Linked DNA regions of Homo sapiens. The protein of the gene in region 2 interacts with the protein of the main gene of each other region in a pairwise test. Each region holds a gene or a part of one and is shown on either strand. Other genes may lie near its edges.

The links.
Region 1: the proteins of BRIP1 (region 2) and HSD17B14 interact in binary tests that used the Homo sapiens proteins (3 or more experiments, as listed by UniProt).
Region 3: the proteins of BRIP1 (region 2) and MMS19 interact in binary tests that used the Homo sapiens proteins (3 or more experiments, as listed by UniProt).

Annotation. Positions count from the first base shown.
Region 1 is NC_000019.10:48,833,057-48,840,539, forward strand, and holds the start of HSD17B14 (L-fucose dehydrogenase), read right to left. Parts: upstream 3,436-7,483; 5' UTR 3,356-3,435; coding exon 3,268-3,355; intron 2,788-3,267; coding exon 2,749-2,787; intron 1,303-2,748; coding exon 1,220-1,302; intron 1-1,219. Other genes in the region: PLEKHA4 (pleckstrin homology domain-containing family A member 4), read right to left, coding at 4,233-4,495, 4,961-5,073, 6,149-6,207. UniProt on the Homo sapiens protein: Catalyzes the NAD(+)-dependent oxidation of L-fucose, yielding L-fucono-1,5-lactone, which rapidly converts spontaneously to L-fucone-1,4-lactone. Can also act on D-arabinose and L-galactose, with lower catalytic efficiency. Does not use NADPH.
Region 2 is NC_000017.11:61,853,151-61,860,790, reverse strand, and holds part of BRIP1 (Fanconi anemia group J protein), read left to right. Parts: intron 1-883; coding exon 884-995; intron 996-3,559; coding exon 3,560-3,733; intron 3,734-7,640. UniProt on the Homo sapiens protein: DNA-dependent ATPase and 5'-3' DNA helicase required for the maintenance of chromosomal stability. Acts late in the Fanconi anemia pathway, after FANCD2 ubiquitination.
Region 3 is NC_000010.11:97,487,988-97,495,627, reverse strand, and holds part of MMS19 (MMS19 nucleotide excision repair protein homolog), read left to right. Parts: intron 1-7,640. UniProt on the Homo sapiens protein: Key component of the cytosolic iron-sulfur protein assembly (CIA) complex, a multiprotein complex that mediates the incorporation of iron-sulfur cluster into apoproteins specifically involved in DNA metabolism and genomic integrity.

The DNA.
Region 1 (7,483 bases), on a different chromosome or scaffold from region 2:
TCCTTTGAATGAGCAGTAGATGGGGTGTCCAGCCATAAAGAAGACAGGGCTCCCAAATGCAAGGCAGGAGGGGGAAGCTGAACTCCCAGGTCAGGGGACAAGAGCTAGAGGAAGAGGGGACTCCGAGATCAGCAGACACAGCAGGCAAGCAGGAGACAGGAAGGAGACAGGGGGCTGGTCAGAGCCACACTGCAGTCGTCACACCCAGGGTCAGGGGGTGGGGCAGGGGGGTGACAAGGATTCAGAGAGCGCGTAGGGGACAGTTGCCCAAGGGGGGCAGATAACAGAGAGATACTGATTAAAAGGAAGAAATAGGAACCCAGAAATAATGGAGAAAAAATCAGTTACATACAGGCCACGTGCAGTGGCTCACACCTGTAATCCCAACACTTTGGGAGGCTGAGGTGGGCGGATCACCTGAGGTCAGGAGTTCGAGACCAGCCTGGCCAACATGGTGAAACCCTGTCTCTACTAAAACTACAAAAATTAGCCAGACACGGTGGCTCATGCTTGTAATCCCAGCACTTTGGGAGGCTGAGGCGGGCGGATCATCTGAGGTTGGGAGTTCGAGACCAGCCTGACCAACATGGAGAAACACCGTCTCTACTAAAAATACAAAATTAGCCAGGTGTGGTGGCACATGCCTGAAATCTCAGCTACTCGGGAGGCTGAGAGAGGAGAATCACTTGAAGCTGGGAGGCAGAGGTTGCGGTGAGCCGAGATCACACCATTGCACTCCAGCCTGGGCAACAGGAGCGAAACTCTGTCTTAAAAAAAAAAAAAATTAGCCGGGCATGGTGGCGCACACCTGTAATCCCAGCTACTCGGGAGGCTGAGATAGGAGAATGGCTTGAACTCGGTAGGCTGAGGTTGCAGTGAGCCGAGATCACACCACTGCACTCCAGCCTCAGTGACACTTACAAAAAAAAGAGACAGAAAAATCAGTTCCAGTTGACCCACTTTGAGGGACTTATTCATTTCCATCCACATGTTAAATGTGCTAAGAGCCTTGGAGAGGTGTGACAGAAGGAACATGTGACCTGCCCATCAGTCACAGAAGACCTTGTGTGTGGAGTGACACTGGGTGGAAACCTTTGACGAGTCCAGCGGAGCCAGGAGAGGAAGGAAAAGTAGAGGGAAAGGCATATGCAAATGGCTGGAGGAGAACAAAGAACTGGTCATTAGCGGAGATGGGGGTAGGAACAGGAACTCGGCTTACCTTCACATCATCTTCCTGAGTCACATCACAGAGGATAAAGACAGCTCCAGGGAGCTCCTGCTCCAGGGCCCGGCCCCCAGACTCTGCAGGGAGAGAAGAGCTGGGAGCCTGGACCCCTGGGTCTCAGGGAGGAGGGGTTGGGGACTTGGACTCCTGGGTCTGAGGGAGGAGGTGCTGGGGGCCTGGACTCCTGGGTCTGAGGGAGGAGGGGCTGAGGTCTGGACTCCTGGGTCTGAGGAAGTAGGGCCTGGGGGCCTGGACTCCTGGGTCTGAGGGAGGAAGGGCTGGGAGCCTGGACTCCTGGGTCCGAGGAAGTAGGGCCTGGGGGCCTGGACTCCTGGGTCTGAGGGAGGAAGGGCTGGGAGCCTGGACTCCTGGGTCCGAGGAAGTAGGGCCTGGGGGCCTGGACTCCTGGGTCTGAGGGAGGAAGGGCTGGGAGCCTGGACTCCTGGGTCTGAGGGAGGAGGGGCTGGGAGCCTGGACTCCTGGGTCTGAGGGAGGAGGGGCTGGGAGCCTGGACTCCTGGGTCTGAGGGAGGAGGGGCTGGGGGCCTGGACTCCTGGGTCTGAGGGAGGAGGGGCTGAGGTCTGGACTCCTGGGTCCGAGGAAGTAGGGCCTGGGGGCCTGGACTCCTGGGTCTGAGGGAGGAAGGGCTGGGAGCCTGGACTCCTGGGTCTGAGGGAGGAGGGGCTGGGGGCCTGGACTCCTGGGTCTGAGGGAGGAGGGGCTGAGGTCTGGACTCCTGGGTCCGAGGAAGTAGGGCCTGGGGGCCTGGACTCCTGGGTCTGAGGGAGGAGGTGCTGGGAGCCTGGACTCCTGGGTCTGAGGGAGGAGGGGCTGGGGGCCTGGACTCCTGGGTCTGAGGGAGGAGGGGCTGAGGTCTGGACTCCTGGGTCCGAGGAAGTAGGGCCTGGGGGCCTGGACTCCTGGGTCTGAGGGAGGAGGTGCTGGGAGCCTGGACTCCTGGGTCTGAGGGAGGAGGGGCTGGGGGCCTGGACTCCTGGGTCTGAGGGAGGAGGGGATGGGGGCCTGGACTCCTGGGTCTGAGGGAGGAGGGGCTGGGAGCCTGGACTCCTGGGTCTGAGGGAGGAGGGGCTGAGGTCTGGACTCCTGGGTCTGAGAAAGTAGGGCCTGGGGGCCTGGACTCCTGGGTCTGAGGGAGGAGGTGCCAGAGCCTGGACTCCTGGGTCTGAGGGAAGAGGGGCTGGGAGCCTGGACCCCTGGGTCTGAAGGAGGAGGGGTTGGGGACTTGGATTCCTGGGTCTGAGGGAGGAGGTGCCGGAGCCTGGACTTCTGGGTCTGAGGGAGGAGGGGCTGGGGACCTGGACTCCTGGGTCTGAGGGCAGAGGGGCTGGGGGCCTGGACTCCTAGGTCTGAGGGAGGAGGGGCTGAGGTCTGGACTCCTGGGTCTGAGGAAGTAGGGCCTGGGGGCCTGGACTCCGGGGTCTGAGGGAGGAGGTGCTAGGGGTCTGGACCTCTGGGTCTGAGGGAGGAAGGGCCAAGGTGAGGGCTGAGGGACCGTCACTCACCATCCTTGTCGCAGATAACCACTCGGGCCCCGCTGTTCACTGAGAATAGGAAGGGAACAGGTTACTCTCCGAGCCTTGGTTAAAGCCTCTGCCGCCCTCTTGTGGCCACCTGGATTGGGGCTGATCTCCCTCTCCCCTCGTGACCCCAGTCTCATGATCACCCATAGGACAGAGGGCAGACGCCTTGACACATACTCTCCTTGCCTTGTTTCTGCTGAGGCTCCTGAACCCCCGTTCGTGGCTTCCGGAGCAAACTCCACGACTGACAGAGCCATTCCTCAAACCACTGGTTTTGTAGCTACACCAACAGACCCAGAGAAAGGGGCCACTGCCTTCGGAGACCCTGCCAGACTCAGCCCTAGCCTACAGCGCCACACGCTTACTTTAGCCTGCAAATTGGCTTTTATAATATCAGAATCCTGGCTGCAGTACTGGAGTCCCTATTTTCCGCCCCCATCACCCCGCCCCCATCCTTCCTTTCTCACACTCCACAGCTCCCAGCAGTCAGACCCGGCTCACCGAAGGCGCGCACGATCCCAGCTCCGATGCCGCGCCCGCCCCCGGTCACGACCACCACCTTCCCGGCATAGCGCGTTCCCGTAGCCATCCCGTGTACGTCGGTCTCTCTCTCTCTCTACTCTGGGCCTCTTTCACCTCCAAAGCCCCGTGAGGCCGTCGCATCAAATCCTCAATAGAGGCTGGATCCTGGAAGTCCGGCCTCGGGGGGCGTTGCCAGGAAGGCTAGAGACCTGGAAGTTTGTCCCCAGCCCCTCCTCCCTCAGACACTCCTCTCTTCCCACAGACCCAGGAATCCAGGAGCCCCAGTCCCTCCTCCCACAGACCCAGGAATCCAGAAGCCTCAGTCCCTCCTCCCTCAGACTCGGGAGTCCAGGCCCCCAGCCCCTCCTCCCTCAGACTCGGGAGTCCAGCCTCCCAGCCCCTCCTCCCTCAGACCCGGGAGTCCAGCCTCCCAGCCCCTCCTCCCTCAGACCCAGGAGTCAGGGTCCCAGCCCCTCCTCCCTCAGACCCGGGAGTCCAGCCTCCCAGTCCCTCCTCCCTCAGACCCAGGAGTCAGGGTCCCACCCCTTCCTCCCTCAGACCCGGGAATCCTGGCCCAGCCCCCTCCACTCTCAGACCGAGGGATCAGGTTCTCTATCCCTTCTTCCCAGAGACCTATAAGTCCAAGCCCCCTGTCCCTTCCTCTCTCAGGACCCAGGAGTCCACGACTCCAGCTCTGCCCCTCAGAGACACCAGTGCCACAACCCCAGACAGACAGAAAGAAAGCTATTGACTAAAAGTTCAAAGTTTTAATCCAAATTTAGACAGTGTTGAGAAAACCAAACTTTGGCCATAGAAACCATTCCCCTCCCGGGCCCGCAATGGGGACCAGACCACGCCCCCTGATGCCCTGAGTGGTCCCAGATCTCCGGCGGTACCTCCAGACCACGTCCTCGCGCTCCGATTGGCTGCCGCTTTTGGGCGGATTAGAAGCTGGATTGTAGCAGAGTGACTCGCAGAGGCCATGCCCCCTCGTCTTGTGGCAGGACCGGAGGGGCGATCCCGGCATCCCACGCGGGCCCCCAGGGGGTGGGACCTCCTCCACGCCCACTCCCTCGGCGAGAGAACCCCGTGGAACCCGAATTAGCCACCGGGGGAGATCTGGGGGGAGGGGTCTCCTGGCGCGTGGGGTCCGAAGGAGGCAGCGGCACACCGGGAAGAGGGTCTCCCTGGGAGTCCAAATTTCCACCTGGAGAGGATGAGTGGGACATGAGAATGGCAAACCTCAGCGCTAGGACCCCGGATTCCCAGCCCCTCCTCCCTCAGACCCAGGACTCCGGATTCCCAGCCCCTCCTCCATCAGACCCAGGAGTCCAGGCCCCCAGCCCCTCCTCCCTCAGACCCAGGAGTCCAGGCCCCCAGCCCCTCCTCCCTCAGATCCAGGAGTCTGGATACGCCAGTCCAGTCCTCTTTGAGACTCAGTTGTCGGCCCTCTCCCCGCCCCCTGACCTCTTCCTCCCCTCCTCCCAAGTGTCCCGGACCCCAGTCACCTCTTGCCTGAGACCTAAAACTCCCAAACCCTGCCCAACTCTTTACTCACCAAGATAAAAAATTCTCACCGGCCCCCAGACCCCTCCTCTCCAGGACCTGGGATTCCAGGTCTCCAGCTCTCTCCTCCCTAAAACCCAGAAGTCCAACATCCCCAGCCAGTCACCTGTCATCATTCTGTGCCACTGCGACGCCTCAGTAGCCAGGGCTTGGGAGAGGCTGAGAACCCGCTCCCGGTGACCTTCGGAAGTCGGCAAGTAAGGGGTGGTGTTCCTTGGACTAGAAAAAAAAAGAAGATTGGGGGTGGGGGTGTGTACATGGGGGAGAGGTGGGGGATGGTTAATTGGTACAAAAAGAAAAGGATGAATAAGACCTACTATTAGATAGCACAACAGAATGACTATAGTCAATAATAATTTAATTGTACATTTTTAAATAAATTAAAGGGTGTAACTAGATTGTTTATACATCAAAGGGTAAATCCTTGAAAGGGGATGGATACCCTATTCCCGATGATGTGCTTATTTCACATTGCCTGCCTGTATCAAAACATCTCAATTATCTCGTAAATATATGTATACCTAGTATGTACCAACAAAAATTAAAAATTAAAAAAAAAAAAAAAAAAGCAGGCCAGGTGCGACAGCTTATCCCTGTAATCCCAGCACCTTGGGAGGCCGAGGCGGGCGGATCACTTGAGGTCAGGAGTTCGAGACCACCCTGGCCAACATGGTGAAACCCAGTCTCTACCAAAAAATACAAAAAAGTTAGCCAGGCATGGTGGTGGGTGCCTGTAATTCCAGCTACTAGGGAGGCTGAGGAAGGAGAATCATTTGAACCCAGAAGGCGGAGGTTGCAGTGAACTGAGATCACGCCATTGCACTCCAGCCTGGGAGACAGAGCAAGACTCCGTCTCAAAAAAAAAAAAAAAGTAAAAAATAAAAATAAAAATAAAAAATAAACAGCTGGCACAGTGGGGACCCGGGTACCGCACGTGCCTTTCTGGGAGTTGTAGTTCCTAGCACGTGTCTCTAAAATACGTTAAACATGGCACCGCCCTCATACCGCCCACATGCATTACGGGATTTGTAGTCCACTCGCGCGTCACTATCACCCAATTTCCTTGATGCAGAAGTAGGATCTGCTATTGACCAAGGGAATTTGAGGAACTAAAGATATCACTACGGATCTAGGGCTTTCTGGTTTTGTTGCAGATGCCCCGGGAACTTAAGCATCTCTAGAAGGGTTGCGATTTGTACTTCCATATTCAGGAGACTTTAATAATAATGCTACTCCCCTTTGCTTTTGCAAATTTTTTTTTCCTGCTCCCTTGATACGCCCTCCAGTTCCTTACCTACTCCAGGACCCAGAGCTTCTGAGCCATTTCTGGGCTCCCGAGTGTCCTACGACAGGCTGGAAAGGAATTGGGGCATTAGAACTCCTCACCTGGAAGCCCCACGTTCTCATTTTGAGGGTGAAGTGAAGGGGGCTCCAAAAGAGAATGAAATTGCCCAAAAACACTGGCAATGTTTTGTTTTGTTTTTCCTATGCTTCTGTAGGCACTGAATTTTTAAAAATTAATTTATTTTATTTATTCATTTTTTAGAAAGGATGGAGTACAGTGGTGTGATCATAACTCACTGTAGTCTCGACTTCCCAGGCTTGGACTAATCCTGCTTCAGCCTCCTGAGTAAATAGAACTACAGGCTCGCACCACCATGCCTGGCTAATTATTTTTATTTTTATTTTTAGTAGAGACAGAGTCTTGCTATGTTGCCCAGGCTGGTCTCTTACTCCTGCCTCGGCCTCCCAAAGTACTGGTATTACAGGGGTGAGCCATAGCACCCAGTGACTGACAATGTTTAACTTTACCTGTGTTCCTATAAAGCAGCACATGAGTTCAGAAATCCCACCTCCACCACCACCACCTGTGACTTGTCTAAATCCTTTCTATAAAAGTCTAAGGGGCCGGGTCTGGTGGCTCACACCTGTAATCCCAGCACTTTGGGAGGCCGAGGTGAGCAGATCACTTGAGGTCAGGAGTTTAAGAACAGCCTGGTCAATATGGTGTAAACCCCGTCTCTACTAAAAATACAAAAAAAAAAAAATTAGCAGGGTGTGGTGGCATGGGCCTGTAATCCCAGCCACTTGGGAGGCTAAGGCAGGAGAATCGTTTGAACCTGGGAGACAGGGGTCGCAGTGAGTCGAGATTCCACCACTATACTCCATCATGGGCAACAAAGGGAGACTCTGTCTCAAAAAAAGAAAAAAAAAATCTAAGGGGAGGTTAGGTGCAGTAGCTCACACCTATATTCTTAGCACCTCCTTCCAAGGCAGGAGGATCACTTGAGCTCAGGAGCTCGACACCAGCCTGGCCAACGTGGTAAAAATCTGTCTCTACTAAAAATACAAAAATTGGCTGGATGTAGTGGCATATCCCTGTAGTCCTAGCTACTCGGGAGGCTGAGGCATGAAAATCACTTGAACCCAGGAGGTGGAGGTTGCAGTGAGTGGAGATCGCACCACTGCACTCTAGCCTGGGCGACCTTGTCCCTGAAAAAAAAAGAAAACATCTTTTTTTTTTTTTTTTTTGAGACAGAGTTTCACTCTTGTTGCTCAAGCTGGAGTGCAATGGCAAAATCTTAGCTCACCACAACCTCCACCTCCTGGGTTCAAGCGATTCTCCTGC
Region 2 (7,640 bases):
TATAAATTCCATTGGATGAATATACCAGAATTTATCTGTCCATTTTCTTATTGGTAGACATTTAGGTTGTTTACATTCTTTTGCAGTTACAAACAATGCTGCTGTGAACTTCCTTTTTTCTTTTTGTTTTTGAGACAGCGTCTCACTCTGTCGCCCAGATTGGAGTGCAGTGGCGCGATCTTGGCTCACTGCAACCCCTGCCTCCCAGGCTGAAGCTATTCTCCTGCCTCAGCCTCCCCAGTAGCTGGGATTACAGGGATGCGCCACCACGCCCAGCTAATTTTTGGATTTTTAGTAGAGACGGGTTTTCACCGTGTTGGCCAGGCTGGTCTCGAACTCCTGACCTCAAATGATCCACCTGCCTTGGCCTCCCAAAGTGATGGGATTACAAGCGTGGCTGCTGCTGTGAACTTTCTTATGCATGTTTCCTTGTGTTCATGTGGGAAAGGTTTTGGGTGTACACATAGAACTGGACTTGCTGGAGCTGGGCATCTTCACTTTATAAGAAATTGTTTATTTCTCTACCAAGTAGTTGTAACAATTTGTACTCTCACTAGCAGTATCCTTCATTAAGTTTTCATCAAATATATTGATAGGTAGTAATGTATTCTGGTTTTACAGAAATCATTGATGCTTGCATAATTCTGGCACAGATTCCTCTTTTCATTTCTTCTCTTGTGCTTGATATTTTAGTAAGATAATCTTAGGGAGAGGTGTAAAGGAATACAGTTTGGATTTAACTAAATATGAGTTCCTTCTGCTATTGTTGTGTTCCCTGGAGTGCAATCTCACTTTTCCTTGCTGTTCTATTTAAACTTCAGATGGAGAGAGACCTTTATAAAGTTAATATGTTTATTATTTTCATTGGTTTCTGTGTTCATAGATTCTCAGAGGATTAAACAGCAAGCAACATTGTTTGTTGGAGAGTCCCACAGGAAGTGGAAAAAGCTTAGCCTTACTTTGTTCTGCTTTAGCATGGCAACAATCTCTTAGTGGTAAGTAGTTGCTTGATATCTTCAGGTTACTTACTGGGATCTGAGAAAATATAATACAGTATTCTTTATCCAGACTGGTTCAGCCATGCTGTCGCTAACTTAAATATTTGTTTAAAGATGTTTCTTTGAAATAAGTTATAAATCTTCCAAAAGAGTTTCAATATAGCAAAATATGTTTAATTAATGCTAAAATAGTATTGAACATAATTTAGTCTTTTGATGAGTCGGAAAGTACATAAAGACTTGGCAGCCTGGGCAGCATGGTGATACCCCATCTCTACAAAAATTGACAATCAATTAGCCAGGCATGGTGATGTACACTTGTAGTCCCAGCTACTTGGGAGACTGAGGTGGTAGGATCGCTTGAGCCCAGGAGGTCGAGGTTGCAGAGAGCTGTGATTGTGCACTCCAGCCTGGGTGAAAGAAAACAAACAAACAAAGTTTTGGATGCTTAGAGTTATTATAAAAATAATTAGATGATAATTTGTATGTAAAAGATGCAAGAGATGGGCTGTCATGATGCTGTAACACATACTAATTGCTTTTTTTGGGGGGGGAAATCCTTTAATATATTTGCTTACCTGTTCCTTTCTCATAACATCAGCACATGGAATATATAAAAAAGAATACATTCTAGTTGATCTTTCTACTTGTTTAAATGCCAGATAAACAGAAATTTAGTATAATATTGTTTGTATGAATTTATATTACTTCCCACTACTTTTCCTTTTTTTTTTTTTTTTTTTGAGTGGCGTCACCTGGGATGGAGCATAGTGATGTGATCATAGCTCACTGTAACCTCAAACTCCCAGGCTCAAGTGATTCTCCTGCTTCAGCCTCTTAAATAGTTGGGATTATAGGCATGAGCCACCAGGCCAAACTATTTTTACTTTGTTTGCTAACAAATGCCTATTAATATTTACTTCTATGAAAGACTATATAAACTACATAATGAATCAGAAATATAATATTGGATACATTTTAGTTACATTAGATGGCTTTAACCTAAAGTATTAGGAGAATTGAGGTTAAACATGGTATGTGTATGTATGTATGTATGTGTATATAGGTATATAGATACATTTTTAAAATGAAATGTTTGTTACTAATAAGAGTATATTAAGGCTGGGCACAGTGGCGCACGCCTGTAATCCCAGCACTTTGGGAGGCCAAGGCAGGTGGATCACCTGAGGTTGGAAGTTTGAGACCAGCCAGACCAACGTGGAGAAACCCCGTCTCTACTAAAAATACAAAATTAGCCTGGTGAGGTGGCGTGTGCCTGTAATCCCAGCTACTCGAGAGGCTGAGACAGGAGAATCACTTGAACCTGGGAGGTGGAGGTTGCAGTGAGCCGAGATCGCGCCATTGCACTTCAGCCTGGGCAACAGGAGCGAAACTCTGTCTCAAAAAAAAAAAAAAACAGTAAATACTTCATAAGCTTTTGGTTGTTCATTTTGATTCTCACTGACGTTAATTTTGGGAAAAATGAGTTTATCGGTACTAACTTCAGGTCTTAATGGCAGATGTCTGGAAAATAGAATTAGGAATATTTATATGGTACAAATGGGAAAACAATGTCAATACTGATTATTTTTAAAAATAAATTATTTAGCTTTTTTGGGGGTATATGAATTGTACATTTGTATACAATGTAGGCACACAATGTAAACTTATTACAATTTGGTATTATATTTAGCACTAAAATTACCTATTTTATTGATTTGAATATTGACCTTAAAATGTATTTTGATGCAAGTATCAGAATTAATACATCAAAAAACATGTTTCTATTTGAAATAGAAGTATAATTGGGGGAATGATTTAACCCTTATGTGTTAGATTATTATCTAATATATTGAACTTTCAAATTCTTCATTTAGGGAAAGAGTAGTAATTAAGGATATACTTTATGTCCTTGTTTCAATCCATTCTTGAATTTTAGATAAATCTTAATATAAATGAATACTTGAGTAGTTGTACTTTTATTACATTATTAATCTTAGATTATTAGATTTTTACAGATTACATAAATGGGTGATAATTTCCCTATAAATGTTTTTGTTTTGGTTTTTGAAACAGAGTCTTGCTCTGTCGCCTAGGCTGGAGTGCAGTGGCATGACCTCTGCTCATTGCTACCTCTGCCTCCCAGGTTCAAGCGATTCTCCTGCCTCAGCCTCCTGAGTAGGTGGTATTACAGGCGTGCACTACCACGCCTGGCTAATTTTTGTATTTTTAGTAGAGACAGGGTTTTACCATATTGGCCAGGCTGGTCTCAAACTCCTGACTTCAATTGATGTGCCTGCCTCGGCCTCCCAAAGTGCTAGGATAACAGGCGTGAGCCACTGTGTCCAACCAAATGTTTTTGGCTTATTTCTCTCCTGTCCTAATTTGATGCTGCAGATAAAGTGACCAGCTTGTCCAGGTTTGCCAGGTACCTTCCTGGTGTTAGCCCTAAAAATCTTTTATCTTAGGAAACCTCCCAATCCTGGGTGAACTGGGCTGTAGAGAATGATTGATGTTTATTTAATTAGATATATTATAAATAGATGTTCTTTCATTTTTAGGGAAACCAGCAGATGAGGGCGTAAGTGAAAAAGCTGAAGTACAATTGTCATGTTGTTGTGCATGCCATTCAAAGGATTTTACAAACAATGACATGAACCAAGGAACTTCACGTCATTTCAACTATCCAAGCACACCACCTTCTGAAAGAAATGGCACTTCATCAACTTGTCAAGGTAATTTATATTTTGCCTGGGTCAGTTGATATCTGTAATAAGAGTCTTAATTATTACTGTTATAAGCCCTAATTTATATAAGTTTGGTTAGCATAACTGATTATATATCTCTATCTAGTTTCTCTGGAATGATTTTAAAATAGCACAGAGTGGTCAAAAATCCATAGACGTTTTTAAATTCTTGGTTTGACTTTTAATTTATTGAGACATTTTGTTGTCCTAAATAATTTTTTAAGGAAGGCAAGGCAAAATAAATGATTTTCCAAAATTGATGTTATTTGTAGCCATTATTGTTAATTATATGTTAGAATTCTATAAAACAATGTTTGTATCCTAAGACGAAATCTAATTAGCCTCATTGATTCATTCTTGATAAGTTTGCCTGGCCTTCTGAGGCCAGTATCCTACATAAGTATCAGGTATGTTTATGTGTGATCTTTAAATAATTTTTACTAATTTTAGAGAAATACATTAAGAGTAACATAAGATTATTAATAATATATTTAAAAAATATTTCACCTGCTTTTGGCTGTATAGAAAGGATAGACTATTATTTACCTAAGAAACCTAGGGAACATCCTGGACACTTTGCTCTTTCTTATTTCTTCATGTACATCTCCATATCCATTGGTACCTCCATAGTCCAAACTACCATTTCTTGTTTAGAGCATCCAATAACGCTTTTTTCTGCTTTTACTCATGCTATTCCTTTACCAGTCACTGGCAGGGAGACAGAGGTTGCCATGATTGACTTAAGTCAAAACAAAGAGTATCCATTTCCTAAAATCAAGGATGGAGTCAGCTTCCTCTAAAGCATGTGACTATATAGAGGAGGGTAGATGATTGAACTTCTGGTAGGAATGAGGAAAGAGAAGTGGAACAGTTATTAAATAGGTGACCAATAGTGTTGTCTACATTGTTTTGATTTTGGCCTTTTGGATTTCTTCCCTTTCCTTCAAAGATTTATGCTTTCTCCTTCCTCAGAGCCTTTGCTTCTATTAGTGTCTCTTCTGAGCAAAGTTCCATCTTCAATTTATTATCCTTTTCTTCCTCAGTTTACATGTGACTTCCTTGGGGTATCCATCACTGATTTTTCTGTCAGAGTAGATTTGATTTTCCTATTATAGTCTGTCTTCTCCTTGTGTACCTTTCCTTTATAGCACTTGTTACAGTTTGTATTATATGTGTCTGTCTAAATCTTTTATTAATCTCTGCTTCCTTGGCAGACTACTTCATGAGGTTAGGAATATTGTCAATTTGCTTACCATTGTATCCCTAGAACTCTAGCAGGGTGCCTGGCATATGGTAGGTGCTAGATAAATATTTGTTGTTAGGAATGAATGGGATTAATTTTCAGCTAATTATAGGAATTCTGGTGTATAATATTTATATACAACCTTTTAAAAACAGCTTTATTGACGTTTACTTGACATAACAAATTGCATATATTTAAATGGTACTTTTTTTTTTTTTTTTTTTGAGACAGAATCTCACTCTGTTGCCCAGGCTGGAGTGCAGTGGTGTGACCTTGGCCCACTGCAACCTTCACCTCCTGGGTTCGAGCAATTATCCTGCCTCAGCCTCCCAAGTAATTGGGATGACAGGCGCCTGCCACCACACCCAGCTAATTTTTTGTATTTTTAGTAGGGACAGGATTTTACCATGTTGGCCAGGCTGGTCTCGAACTCCTGACCTCAAGTTACTCACCTGCCTCGGCCTCCCAGAGTCCTGGGATTATAGGCGTGAGCGACCACGCCCAGCCTAAATGGTACACTTTGATACATTTTGACATATGTACCTCCATGAAACTTTCACCAGAATCAAGACAGTGAACATACACACCAACCCCATATTCACTTTATCCAAAACTTTTTAAACATGCTCACTTTCCCAAAAAGTTTTCTCATGGACTTTTGTTATCCCTCTTTCCCACCCCTACATGACTCACCTCCCCAACCAACCACCTGTCTGATTTTTGTTACTATAGATTAGTTTGCATTTTCTATAGTTTATATAAATGGATTCATACAGGATGTATACTTATTTTGTCTGGCTTCTTTCACTTATGACAATTATTTTGAGATTCCTCTATGTTGTTGCATGTATTAATAGTTTGTTTCTTTTTATTTCTGAGTAATTGTGCATGGATATACCACAAATTGGTTATTGGCTGTTTATGTATATTTGGGTTATTGCTAGTTCTGGGCTATTACAAAGACAGATACTGTGAACATTTGTGTCTACATCTTTGTATGGATGTATGTTTTCATTTCTCTTGGGTGAATACTAGGAGCAGAATGACCAGATTGCTTTGTAGGTGTGTATGTTTTAACTTTTTTTTTTTTTTTTTTTTTTGAGACGGAGTCACTCTTGCCCAGGCTGGAGTGCAGTGGCGCAATCTCAGCTCACTGCAACCTCTGCCTCTCGGGTTCAAGTGATTCTCCTGCCTCAGCCTCCCAAGTAGCTAGGATTACAGGAATGTGCCACCACACCTGGCTAATTTTTGTATTTTTAGTAGAGATGGGGTTTCACCACGTTGGTCAGGCTGCTCTGTAGCTCCTGACGTCAAGTGATCCACCCATCTGTGCCTCACAAAGTGTTAGGATTACAGGCGTGAGCCACCGTGCCTGGCCAACTTTTTAAGAAATTTCTAAACTGTTTCATGAAGTGGTCATACCATTTTATATTCCCATCAGCAGTTATGAGAGTTCCAGTTTCTTCACATCCTTGTGAACCCTTGGTATGGTCAGTCCTTTTAATTTTAGCCATTCTTTTTTCCTGGAGATAGGGTTTCATTCTGTTGCCCAGGCTGGGTACAGTACTGTGATCTTGGCTCACTTGGCTCATTGCAACCCCTGCCTCCTGGAACCAAGTGATCCTCACACTTCACACTCCCTAGTAGTTGAGACTACTGGCATGCACCACCACACCTAGCTAATTTTTATAGTTTTTGTTGGTTTTACTGTGTTCCCCAGGCTTGTCTTGAACCCCTGGGCTCAAGTGATCTGCCTTCTTCGGCCTCCCAAAGCACTGGGATTATAGGCATGAGCCACCATACCTGGCCTTAATTTTAGCTACTCTAATAGGCATGTGGCAGTATCTCATTGTGGTTTTAATTTTTATTTCCCATATTTTCATGTTCTTATTAGCTATCCATGTATCTTGTTTGATGATATGTCTGTTCGAATAATTGCCTATTTTTTATTAGTTTGTGTTCTTACTGTTAAATTTTGAGACTTCTTTAAACATTTTGAATACAAGTCTTTGATCAGATAGAATTTTAGGTTTACATTTAGGTCTAAGATCCATTTTGAGTTAATATGTGTATATGGTGTAAGGTATGGATTCAAGTTCATTTTTTTGCATGTGGATATCCAGTTGTTCAGCACCTGGATATATCGAAAAGGCTATCCTTTATCCACTACATTGCCTTTGTGTCTTTATCAACAATGAGTTATCCATATGTACACAACTTGATTTTGACATTACTGTGAGTCAGTGTTATTTAGAATAGTCTAAATGGGAAAAATCAAGGTTGTATTCTGATACGCTCTTTATATTTGTAAGTAAATCCTTTAATCTGTAACCTAAATATAGAAAAATGCAAATCCTAAGTATATAACTTGATGAATTTTCACTGTCATAACTACTACATAGATTAAAAAAAAAAGAGAGAGACATTACCAACACCCCAGAGGCCCTCCTCATCTTCTTTTTCAGTCACTGTCCCTTCTTTCCATAGGTAATTCTTGTCCTCCTGTGACCATTGATGAGTTTTGCCTTTTTACAGAAATAGAGTGAAACTCCATCTCAAAAAAAAAAAATGGAATTATATATGTAATCTTGTGTCTGTCTTCTGCTTAATATTGTATTTGTGAGATTCATTCATGCTGTTGCATATAGTAGT
Region 3 (7,640 bases), on a different chromosome or scaffold from region 2:
TGAAAACAAATTTGACAAGGATTAAGTTAATATTGTCAATCTTAGATCACAGCCCTAGTTAGGGTTGTTGAAGGATAACAGAGTGTTGAAGCGTTTATAGAATAAGATGTGCTTTCTAATCTTTCAGCCTAAATCAAGCTTTGTTAGCGCTAAAGGGACCAGCTAGCTTCCTGTTCAGTCACTCAGAGTAGCAGCCTGCAAATTTAAATGCAGAAGGAGCACCCTTTGATCACAAAAGCAGCTGCTGCCACCTTTGTTTTGTACCTGGGTTCCTGGTGAAAGTGTCAGCTGTAAAGAAGCTGCAGGCGATGGGAGGGAAATAACCTGGCAGCCTAAGGGTTAAAGGCCTCTTGGGCAAGCCTTCAAAGCCTGCCACTACCTGGCCCCAGCCTTTTTTTCTCACTGCTCCCTGGACGTTTAATTCCAGGCAGCCACCTTTATTCGTAGTTCCCTGAGTGCTTTCCTTCCCAATTCCCTTCACTAGCTCTGTGTAATCGAAGTTAGACCTGAGAGTCAAGGCCCAGCTTGAGTTCCCTACCCCTCCCCAAGGGTTTCCTGATTAACCCAGCCAGACAGCATCTCATACGTCAGAATCTTTGTAGTACGCACTTATTTCTCAACCACTCATGTATTTAGTGGACTAGTTTAGTAGCTGTTGCTGTATACATCTCCACATCCTACCCTCCCAGTTGTACCACCAGAATCTCCTGAAATTGGCATCAGTAGGTACACAATAAAAACTGCTTGAGTGAATGCAATGAGAAATGTTGAAGGAAGAATCTGTGGAATTTGAGTTCTAACTAGTTATTATAGGGCTTGAAGGAGATAGAGGACTCTAAGAAGACCCCAAGGTTTTGAACCAGAGGATGAGGAAAAGAAATACTTTGTCCAAAATTAGGACGAGAGCTGATTTTCAGAGAATGTGATTTTTGAACACGTTGAATTTGCAGGTGATGGATATAATTTTTTTCCTTTTAGTTATTTGGATTTTCCTTCATTTCAGTCTTTATTGTATTGTGTTTTTCCATGTTTGTGATTCCCTAAGAATACCTCTATTCCTTAAGTCAAAGTATTAAAGAACAGTAAAATACAGTTTAGTGAAATATCTGAGGCATTATCAGCAGAAAGGGCATTTTGAGAGCTTGATTGGAACTTAGTCCTGATTGGGATTTTTCTCTCTCCTGCTCCTTCTCATCCTCCCACCCTACCCGCTTCCCCTCACTTCCCTTTGGCTGCTAGTCCAGATTCTCAAGAGGCTTCAACTCCATCAGACAGAGATCTGTTTGTGCATTCTGTGTCAATGATCACATGAATACTCCTTTGACTTCTCAGTGCCCCCACACAAACTGGTGCCTTGCTAAGGAAAGTGTGGGTAGTTAGGAGGTGCTAGTAGGTCCATTTTTAAGAGCAAATCTTGAACGTGTTGGAAAATCTTAGACCCTCCTATAAAGGGAAATGAACTTACACTGATTTTTTCCTTGATACCAGCGAAAATACCGTTAGGAAAATTAACTCTCTGTTAGCTTTCTTCATCCCAGGAGTCCAAGTGCATAATTAATAGTATTTCCAGGTATTACGGGTGTGTTGTTGTTGTTGTTTGTTTGTTTGCTTTTGAGATGGAGTTTTGCTCTGTTGCCCAGGCTGGAGTGCAATGGTGCGATCTCTGCTGACCGTAACCTCTGCCCCCCAGGTTCAAGTGATTCTCCTGCCTCAGCCTCCCGAGTAGCTGGGATCACAAGCATGCATCACCACACACGGCTAATTTTGTATTTTTAGTAGAGATGGGGTTTCTCCATGTTGGTCAGGCAAGTCTCTAAACTTCCGACCTCAGGTGATCTGCCTGCCTTGGCCTCCCAAAGTGCTGAGATTACAGGTGTGAACCACCATGCCAACCCTGGTTATTTTTAATTTTGGATAATTTGCACCATTAAAAGAATTAATCACTTAAAGTTAGTGGCCCATGGTCCATAAACCCAGGAATTTTACTTCTTTCTCATGCCAACCCAATCTCTGTTTATATCACTGTGGTAACACAGAACTTGTTACACTGTGATTGTTTTATTTATTTATTTTAGAAGCAGGGTCCACTCTGTTGCCCCAGCTGGAGTGCAGTGTGACCTCGAAGAACTTCTGGGCTCAAGTGATCCTCTGGCCTCAGCCTCCAGAGTAGCTGAGACTACAGGCCCGTGCCACCACACCTGGCTAATTTTTTTGTAGCGAACAGGGCCTTGTTTTGTTGCCCAAGGTGGTCTCCAACTCCTGACCTCTAGCGATCCTCTAGCCTCAGCCTACTGTGATTGTTTTAAATGTCTTTCTGGGCTAGGCATGGTGGTTCATGCCTGTAATCCCAGCACTTTGGGAGGCTGAGGTGGGAGGATTGCTTGGGCCCAAGAATTCGAAACCAGCCTGTACAGTATAGTGAGACCTTGTCTCTACAAAAATCTTTAAAAATCAGCCCAGCATGGTGGTGTGCCTGTAGTCGCAGCCACTTGGGAGGCTGAGGTAGGAGAATCACTTGAACCCTGGAGGGAGAGGTTACATTGAGCCAAAGATGGCACCACTGCACTCCAGCCTGGGTGACAGAGCAAGACTCTGTCTCAAAAATGAATAAATGAATGAATGTTTGTCTTTCTGCTCCAACAGACTATGGACTTCCCCAAAACTCCCTGCCCATATTTCTATCTTAAGCCCTAACATGGTACCCTATTTATAATATTCAGTAAATGTTGAATGAAAACGAACATATGGCTTTTTTTTTTTTTTTTTTGGGAGATGAAGTCTTGCTCTGTTGCCCAGGCTGGTGTGCAGTGGCGCGATCTTGGCTCACTGCAACTTTAGCCTCCTGGGTTCAAATGACTCTTCTGCCTCAGCCTCCGAAACAGCTAGGATTACAGGCCCATGCCATCATGGACAGCTAATTTTTCTATTTTTTTTTTTTTTTAGTAGAAACAGGGTTTCATCATGTTGGCCAGGCTGGTCTCAAACTCCTAACCTCAAGTAATCCACCTGCCTCGGCCTCCCAAAGTGCAAGGATTACAGGTGTGAGCCACCATGCCTGGCCACCATCTTCCTTACTTTTTTTTACGGTCTTGTAATAGCTTTATTATCTCATTTTTCTCTAATTTTTTCTTTCTTTTCTTTTCTTTTTTTTTTGAGACAGAGTCTCACTCAGTCGCCCAGGTGGGAGTGCAGTGGCTCCGTCTCCACTCACTGCAAGCTCTGCCTCCTGGGATCACACCATTCTCCTACCTCAGCCTCCCAAGTAGCTGGGACTACAGGCGCCCGCCACCACGCCCAGCTAATATTTTTGTATTTTTTTTTAGTAGAGACAGGGTTTCACTGTGTTAACCAGGATGGTCTCAATCTCCTGACCTCGTGATCCGCCCGCCTCGGCCTCCCAAAGTGCTGGGATTACAGGCGTGAACCACCGCGCCCGGCCTCATTTTTCTCTAATTTTTTCTACTTTTATACTTTTTTTTTTTTTTTTTTTTAGATTGAGTTTCACTCTGTAGCCCAGGCTGGAGTGCAATGGCATGATCTCAGCTCATTGCAAACTCTGCCTCCCAGGTTCAGGTGATTCTCCTGCCTCAGCCTTCGGAGTAGCTAGGATTACAGGCATGCGCTACCACACCCGGCTAGTTTTTGTGTTAGTAGAGACAGGTTTTTGCCACGTTGGCCAGACTGGTCTCAAACTCCTGACCTGAGGTGATCCACCCACCTCGGCCTCCCAGAGTACTAGGATTACTGGCATGAGCCACCGTGCCCGGCCTTATAGTCACTTTTATGTTTGTGCTGCATTAATTCAAGAATTTTGTGAAAGCTATATGAAGACTAAAGGGCTTTGCCAGGAGAGTTCACCCACATACTGGGATTCAAGGAACCACATGCAAATGGCTATTTATTTGTAATTATAAAGCAGCCATTTTCATATTAATGTATGCAGAATGCCAAAGAAGCATTTTTCTTTTTTTTTCTTTGAGACGGAGTCTCGCTCTATCGCCCAGGCGTGATTTCGGCTCACTGCAACCTCTGCCTCCCAGGTTCAAGCAATTCTTCTGCCTCAGTCTCCTGAGTAGCTGGGACTACAGGCGCATGCCACTACACCCAGCTAATTTTTTAATTTTTGGTAGAGATGGGGTTTCACCATATTGGCCAGACTGGTCTCGATCTCCTGACCTCATGATCCACCCACCTCGTCCTCCCAGAGTGCTGGGATTATAGGCGTGAGCCACCACGCCCGGCCTTTACCTCAATTTTTTTAAAAAAATGAAAAAATAGAAGGTACTGAATGGGCCCTATTTGGCACTTCTTGTCTTAGAGCCTTCGTTCCAAATATAGACCCTAGCCTGACATCCACAGAGGGTTTTGATGGTATTGCTGAAGAAAAATGATTCAGTTCATTGATATCCTTTGCTATTAACAGTTGTTAGTCCCCTATGGCTTCATCTGTACAATTATTAACTCCTTCTGTGCCCATTATTGAAATTAGTTTTTAGATGGGTTGTTTCAGCAGAGTTTTCTGTACTATAGCCAGGCTGTTCCAAGAAAGTACCCTTTTCTACCTTCCCAAATGTTGCAATGCCCTTTTGTGGTTCGTAACCCAGAAATAGGTGTTTCAGTTCATGTAAGTGTTGCCATTAAGGAATTGGGTATAGAACCCAACTTGGTTTGTTTGGCCTGTTAGTCTGGCTGCTACCCCTTCCCCCACCCTTACAGTCTGCTCATTTTTTCCCTTGGCTCTTTCTCAGGAGCTGGGGCAGCAGCTGGGCCTTCCACATCCTGGCACAAGTGGGCTAAGAGTGCCTGATGTCTAAATTGGTGCCAGTCACGAGCTATAAGTCCTAACTAGAGCTCTCATTTTCCTCAGTCTCATTGGACGACTTCTTACTGTGGTGCTAGAGTGAGCCTCTGCCCAGGTCAGCTCATAACTGTTGCTGTGAGACCACAGACTTTAGGAGAACTGGAAGTTTAGGATTTCTTCAGACCTCTCTTTCACTTTTTCCAGCATTGGCACAAGCTGACTAGTTAAGGTTCTGCATTTAGAGGTAGGTGGATTAGGAACCCAGAACAGGCTGCTGGAAGTAATTCTCTGGTTGTCACACCTTATTTAGCTATAAGTGTTCAATGTGAACCAAAGCCTTATGAAGATTGTTAGCCTTTTACCCTGTTTCTCCCTTGAAAATACATTCTAAGATGCTTCTCTTCAATATATGTGAGTTACTATTGTGCTGCTAAAATTGCATTTAAAGGCCAGGTGCAGTGGCTCACATCTGTAGTCCCAGCACTTTGAGAGGTCAAGGTGGGTGGATCACTTGAGCCCAGGAATTTGAGACCAGCCTGGGCAACATGGCAAAACCCTGTCCCTACAAAAAAATACAAAAATTAGGCGGGCATGGTGGTGCATGCCTGTAGTCCCAGCTACTCGGGAGGCTGAGGTGAGAGGATCACTTGAGCCTGGGAAGTCGAGGCTGCAGTGAGCCATGATTGTACTACTGCACAGAGCTAGACCCTGCCTCAAAAAAAAAATCCAAATAATATAGGTAGATACTCCTCCCTCCAGGAGGTGGAGTTTAATCTTCCCCTCCCCACTGAATGTGAGCTGGACTTAATGAATACCTTACAAATAAAAGAGTACCAGAAAGAGAAAAGTAGTAACTATAGTGCAGAGACCTGGCAGACATACCTTAACCAAGTGATAAACATTAACATTGCCAGTGATGGAGAAGCCATGTTACTATCTTATATCCCTGATATGATATGTTGAGAAGGGTACTTCACCTCTGTGATATTCTTTTTTAAAACCCATAACCCCAGTCTAAACATGAGGGAAACATCAAACAAATGCAAATTGGGGAACCTTCTATAAAGTACTTCTTTAAAACTATCAAGGTCATGAAAAACAAGGAAAGACTAAGAAACTTTCACAGACCAGGAGAGACTAAGAATTCAAGATGACTAACTGCAATTTGGTATTCTTAATTGGATCCTGGAACAGAAATTTGGCATTAGTGGAGAAACTATTGAAATCTGAATAAAGCCTAGAGTTTAGTTAATAGTGTGTATCAGTGCTAACCTAATCTCTTAGTTTTGACACTCGTACATAGTTTCACAGATGTGTGCCATGTAAGACGTTAACATTAAGAGAAACCGAGTGATGGCTATACGGGAACTCCGCACTGTCATTGCAACTTTGCTATAAATGTAAAATTATTCCAAAATGAAATATTTCTTTTAAAACAATAGTCTACCTCTCAACCCTTAACTATGCATTTTCCCTCCCTGAAGGCAACAAATGTTATTAGTTCCTTTTATATCTTCCAGAGATGTAAATAAATGCAAATAAAAACAATCCCCCCTCCCTTTAAAAACAATGCTACGCACATATTATATACACTGTTTATACACACTGTTATTTTAGATCTTGACTCATTATCAGTATATATGTAGCTTCAGTCTTTCTTCATTTGTCTTTTTAAAAGTAGCTACAGGCCCGGTGTGTTGGCTCATGTCTGTAATCTCAGCACTTTGGGAGGCCAAGGCAGGCGGATCACTTGAGCTCAGGAGTTCGAGACCAGCCATAGGCAACATGGCAAAAGCCCCATCTCTACTAAAAATACAATCCAGCCTGGGCAACAGAGCAGGATGCTGTCTCAAAAAATAAAAATAAAAAAGATTAAAAAATAAATAAAAGTAGCTACAGAGAATTCCATTGTATGGATGTACTATAATTCATTTAACTGGTTTCTTATTGATGGGCATGTGTTGTTTGCAGTCATTTACTGTTACGAATAATGCTGTATTGAATAACGTTATACATGCATTATTTTGCACTTTCACAGTACAGTTAGCCCTCCATATCTGTGTGTTCTGCATCCTTGATTCAAGCAACTGCAGGTCAAAAGTATTTGGGGGAAAAAATAGCAACTGTACCAAACATGTATAGACTTTTTTCCTGTCATTATTCACTAAACAATACAATGTAACAACTATTTGCGTAGCACTTAGATTGTATTAAGTATTATGAGTAATCTAGAGATGATTTAAAGTATACAGGAGAGTGTCCATAGTTTGTATGCAAATACTCTTACCATTTTATATAAGGGTCTTGAGCATCCACAGATTTTAGTATCCTCAGGAGGTCCTGGAGCCAGTCTCTCATGTATATACCAAAAGATGACTAGATAGCTAGAGGATAAACTTCTAGCTTTCCTGGGTTAAAGCCTATATGTACCTGGAATTCTAAAGATGTTATATTGCCCTCAATATAGGGTTGCACCAGTTTATAATCCTACCTACAATGTTTAAGAATGTCTGTTTCTGAATATCATGACCAAACATAATATATTGCTAAGTTTTTTGTCTTTGCCAGTCTGTTAGATTTTCTTAAAAAGTTTCTGTGTAGTTTAATTTACATCTTTTATTGTAAATATGGTTGAGCACCTTTTCGTACATACTTGTAGTTCCTTTTATGTGGAATGCCTGTTCATTTTTTTGTTTTTGCCCATTTTGTTTTTTTAATTTTATTTATTTATTTATTTTGAGACAGATCGTCACTCTGTCACCCAGGCTGGAGTGCAGTGGCACGATCTCGGCTCACTGCAACCTCTGCCTCCCGGAATCAAGTGATTCTTGTCCCTCAG